Linked DNA regions of Homo sapiens: region 1 is linked to region 2. Evidence: fine-mapped expression QTL. Tissue or cell type: lung. Region 2 holds a variant in brackets; the other region holds the start of a gene. All regions are shown on one strand. Distances are from middle to middle.

Evidence for each region. PIP is the estimated chance that this variant, and not a neighbour inherited with it, causes the effect.
Region 1: GLP1R starts here. The variant in region 2 is fine-mapped to the expression of GLP1R in lung (GTEx, PIP above 0.99).

The regions. Positions count from the first base shown.
Region 1 is chr6:39,047,561-39,050,185 of GRCh38, reverse strand. It overlaps GLP1R (glucagon like peptide 1 receptor), which reads right to left and starts at 1,405. Exons shown (of 13, transcript NM_002062.5): 1 at 1,268-1,405. The coding sequence starts at 1,345. RefSeq lists an enhancer at 221-721.
Region 2 is chr6:39,100,844-39,103,598 of GRCh38, reverse strand. No RefSeq gene overlaps it. Among named protein-coding and RNA genes, the nearest start is that of SAYSD1, 13 kb to the left of the region's middle. The variant A/T (reference allele first, on the strand shown) is at 1,348.

The sequences.
Region 1 (2,625 bases), 53 kb after region 2:
TGTCTTGGAAGGGGGAGGTTGTCTCCTGGGGCTCAGGACAGCAGCTGGGCTGGGGAACAGGGGCAGGGAGAGGATGCGTCTGGAAAATAATCTGGGGGCTGAAAAATGTGCTGGCATCTTAGCTGAGAGGTATGTCTGTCCACATCTGGGGTTTCCGCCGAGGTGGAGTCTGCCCTCACCAAGGCAATGGTTCTGGGACAAACTTCAAGGTTCGTTCAGGTCCACTCCCCACAGATCTCAGTTCTTTAGGTCTGGGGGTAGCAGTGGGAGGTGATAGGAAGAACCTGTTTCCTGACCCAGGACAGGCCACCCAAGTCTATGTCTCCTCTCTGCTCAAGCAAGTCCCAGCATCTTTGGACAGCTCCCCTCTTCAAAAGCAGCTGACCACTGTCCCTAGCCCAGGATCCCAGGGCAGGAAAAGCAACAAGGGCAAGAGAGAGGGGCTGCGGTGGTCCACCTGTGGCCTGCTCTCTGGTGGCACCAAGGAGCCCAGGTGTTCTTGCGTGTCCCAGTATGCCTTCTCTTGGGGCCTGCTGTCAGTGCAGGATGAGAATGGGAGGTCAGCAGAGTGGGTGAGTGGGGGCGCCTGGCTGCTTCCAGGGGGGCACTGAGCCTTCTGCCTGTTTGCTACAGAGGCTGGTAGGGGACGGGGGGTAGGTTCCATCTGGGAGGTCACTGGGAAGGACAAGCTGCCACCGCAGGGCCCCAGGAGCCATGAATCAAAGGCTGTGCTGGGGGCTGATGAGAAAGGGAGAGGAGCCGGGTCTCCGCACCCTGGCCCTCTCAGCTCCTCCCAGGGTCTTCTCAGGGTCTTTGAGCAGGTGGATTGTCTGGGGAGGCACTGCGGGAGAGGGGTCTGGGTCAGACTGTGGGGCAGAGGGAGTCCGGGAGGATGCCGGGCTGTGCCAGGGCCGCTGACACGGTTTAGAAGGAGTTGGGAAAGTGCTGGGGACAAAGGAGAAGCGGAGCAGAAGTCAGCGCAGGGCGGCCGCGGGGCAGCGGGTGCCCGGGCAGAGGGACCCGGGTGGCGAGGAAGAGGGCGCCTCGCTGGGGTTGGGGGGAATCCTCTGTAGTCCAAGCCCTCACCTGGGCCTTCCAGCCCAGGGGCACCAAGTCTCCAGTCCCTACTCCCCCCGAGGCTTTCGGATGCCCCCGCCAGCGGTCTCGGAGTTTCGTTCAAGTCCCGGGGCCCTCCACCAGGACACTGCGCCTGCAGCCCGCAGAGCCACCCGCCTCCCCCGGTGTCGTCGGGGTCCCTGGATCTCACCTGGGGGCGGGGGCCGGCCCTGCCCACCATCCCGAGCAGCAGCAGCGCAAGGCGCAGCGGGCCGGGGGCGCCGGCCATGGCGGGGAGTTCAGGACTGGGCCATCGCTGCCACCTGCGGAACCGCGTGCGGAGACTGATCCCGGGCTGGTGGCGGGCGGTGGGGGAGGAGCCGGCGAGGGGCCGCCCTGCCCGCGGGAGGGGCCTGGCAGGGTCCCGGTTCTTCCGGCCGCCAGAGACCCCTGGGCCCGCCCCGCCGCACCCCTCTGCCGGTCCCGGGCCAGGAGATAGCGGGCACTGCTCTCCGAGCGAGCGCGGCTGGGAATCAGGAAGCGCAGGAGGCGGCCACCAGCTCTGAGCGCCGACAGTGCGCCTGGCCGGCTTTCAGCGACAAGCCAGGCCCTCCTCCCACCCTGGCACCCCGGACCTCCTCCCGGGTCTCCCAGCTGAGGAAAGCTACAGCAACCCCCGCCCATTCAGGGTCCCTCAAAGGAAACTGAGGCCTGAGGAATGGACGGGACTTGTCCAAGGTCACACGGCTTGGCAGGCCACTCCTGGAAAGTATCCTCAGAGCCAGGGGTGACTAATAAGAACTTTTTTTTCCCAGGATTACCCCTTCCCAGGTCCTCTTCTCATTCCCATGTTCTGTCCTGAAGGCAGGCCCAGGATAGTCAAGGTTGGGGGTGGGGAGACTGACAAATGGATCCACAGAACTCTGACAGTCGCAAGGGTCTAGAGGTTCCCCTCTACCTGGAAACTTCAGCATTGCAGGGCAGGGAGGGATGAGGCTGGGGTCTGCCTTTCTGGAAGCTTCCCTGCCACCTCTTGCAGCTCCAGCCTCCTGCTCTTGTAACCTGTGTATGTGTGATAATGTGTGTCCATGGTTGTTCCTGCCTTCTTTATCTCTCTCCCTGCTTCGCTTCTTGGGGACTCTGGATCTTTCCTGTCTGTTTCCACTCCCACCCCTAAACACTGCAGGGCCCTCAGGTTCCCTTCTTACACCCAACAAGTGGAAAGAGAATGCTAAGAGGGCACTGACTGTATCTTCCCTAATGCTCTTGAGAAGTGGGGATGGGAAAAGAGGATCCCCCACCAAAGAACCTTGATGCCACTCTTAGGAAAGATGAGTTGTGGCAGAGCCCAGCCTCGGACCTGCCGTGGGGCATGTCGACTAAAGGGACAGGAAGTTTGTGAAAGTAGCTACTCCTGGGGAGAGAACTGAACTTCTCAAAGTCCTGAGGAAGGCTGGACCTGCCTGAGCCCAGGGAAGGAGACAGCCAGTGGGAGGGGCCCCTGGCTTCCATTCACCAGGAGAGACTCTCCTCTCCAGCAAGCTCTGGTTCCACCACCTGAGACTCGTT
Region 2 (2,755 bases):
TTAATGGCCTGGCAGGGAGAAGAAGAAAGAACAATAAGTATTTGGTGCTCTGATCAGACCATTAGGTTTTAGGTGCAGCCTTGATTTTCCGAATTTAGGCCTATTGATCTCAGAATTTCCACTCACAGCCTGACCATTAACCCAGCATGCAGCTTCCATTAAAGGATTCTTCTGTCATCAGGGAACTTGAAATCCCAGAGGTAGATGCAGTCACTGTGATAGCTTTATACACGAGTGAAGTCGTTTGTGTCCAAGTCTAACAAGTAACTTGGTTTTTGCTTTTATTCACATTATCCCATCTTGCCTATTGATAGGGACTGTTCAACAAGACTCTACATCTAAAGTTGGAAGGGACCCCAAAATACCATCAAGTGTGTTCCCCACCCCCAACCTTGGGCAGGGCCATCATTTATTCCCAACTAAAGATAATTTGTTTCTAGTGAACCCCTAAAGAAGATTCCAGGTACTTCCTAGGAAGTTCTTTATGTTTACTGAAAGAACTTTTGCCACCCCCATCCCCGCCATCTGGGGTTATTTTGTCTCCTAATCTCAGTGGATGTGGAGTCCCTGGAGGCCTATGTGAGCATCCTTCACACTGGTAAACCTTTACTCAGTTCTCTTTTCTCTCTGCTCTTTAGGCCAAGTCATTGAGCTATACCTCTGGGACTCAATCACTTTCATGCTAGCCCTGACCTATTCTAAGTGTTTCAGGTTTGGGTGGGGGTGAGTGGCCCTGTGGATGGGTATAATGATCTTTCTCAAAAGCTTTGGAGCTTTGCCAGTGATGACTTAGGCATGTGTATTTTGTGCTATTAGAGTTATGCTTTGAGTATAGGCTGTCTTTCACATTTGCCTTTTGACTGATCTGTGCGTCAATCAAAAAGCTCTGTGCTGCAAAATCTTAGAAAGTTACAGAATTGAAAGAACCAGTGACCCTCAGTTGGGCAGAAGACATCAAAATTCGAGCTGTGTGTTTTTAGTTCCTGCCACTCATACCAGCAAATATTTGTAGATGCCCTGGATTTGGCGCTGCTGGGGACACACACATATGAGCTCCTGCATAGGATGAGCGTCCCTAAGAGCCCGGGGATGCAGGGGTGGGGTTGGGATGTCATGAAGCATGTTGCCGCCAGGCGGTGGCGTAGAGCTGCCACTATACCTCACGGGTCCCTTCACATCACACTTGAAAATTTACGTAATGTGGAAAACCCTCTGGGATGTTTATCTCAACCGCTTGTGCTGCTTTTTCAGATGTTTTTTTCAGTTTAAAACTCACAGAGGAAAGGGCCCATCAGAGGTCCTGGGAAAGGCATAGAAAGCTACCAGAAGTGATTTATATATGTATTT[A/T]AAAATAAAACAGCAGCCCCTCTCTAGACTTAGCAGGCAGTGTTACAGTTGCTTGCACATAGCTAAGCTTTGCGGGAAGGGGAGGTGGAATGACTAAGAATTTACATAGTTGGCAGAGAAAACCAACTCCCTAAGCCAAAGAAAGTAACTTTTGAACCATATGCTTTGGTTTCTATCACACATAATTTTATTTCACAACTTTGGAGCACTAGGCTACATAAAGACTTGGATCCCATTCTCAAAAATCTGAGAGAGAAGACAAGATGAGTGCACACAAACTGTATTATAAAGTACAGGACATAATGTGAATGTTTATAAAGGTGTAAGGTGTGTGTGTGTGTGTTCAAGGGAGAGATCACTTGCAGTCCTAAATTCTATACTATATAGGATTTTCACTTCTATGTGAAAAATACTCTTTCCTTAACAAGTCATGGATGAACGTTTTGAAAAGTATGGTCTATAGACCACGCACCTGCATAGGAATCTCCTGTAGTAATGTTAAAATGCAGATTCCAGGGCCCCCACTGACTCAGAATGTCTGAGGGTAGAATCCTGAGAATCTGCATTTTAACAGCCTCCCAGGTGTGATCTCTGGCACAATAAAGATTAAGAGCCGCTGACGTAAACAATAAATGTTAAAATAGGAAGAAAATTTAGTGATTATTAGATCCAAGCAAAGAAAATTGGTGTGCATTTTTAAAGGGAGCAATGAGGCTTGCTATTTTTCAAACTGTTCATTTGGAACACCAAAGCGAGAGACGAAGAAACATAGCTTTAAAACAATGAGGAGCTAACTCCAAAGACTACGTGGAAATTAAGTCCTTTATTTTTGAGGTTTTCTCTAAATGATTACAACAAGAAGTACATGCTCATTTTAGAACATTTTGGAAATACAGGAAGGAATAAAATATTGTTGTACTTCTATGCATATATTTTAGAAGCCAAGAGGTACATGGGGTGTATAGTGAGAACATCTCCCTCCACCCTGCCATGTTTGTTCTTTCTCAAGCCTGCAAATGACACCATTCTAAACACGCTATTCTTTCCCTTGCTTTCTTTTTCTTTCTTAGGAGTTTGAGTTTTATTTATGTGCATTTGAAGTTTTTATGTAAGGGAGTGATATGATCCAATTTACTTTTTTTTTTTTTTTTTTTTTTTTGAGAGACAGAGTCTCACTCTGTCACCCAGGCTGGAGTGCAGTAGCATGATCTGCCTCCCAGGTTCAAGCAATTCTCCTGCCTCAGCTTCCCAAGTAGCTGGGACTACAGGCATGTGCCACAACACCCAGCTAATTTTCGTATTTTTAGTAGAGATGGGGTTTCACTATATGCTGGCCTGCCTGGTCTCAAACTCCTGGCTTCAGGTGATCTGCCCACCTCGGCTTCTCAAAGTGTTGGGATTACAGGCA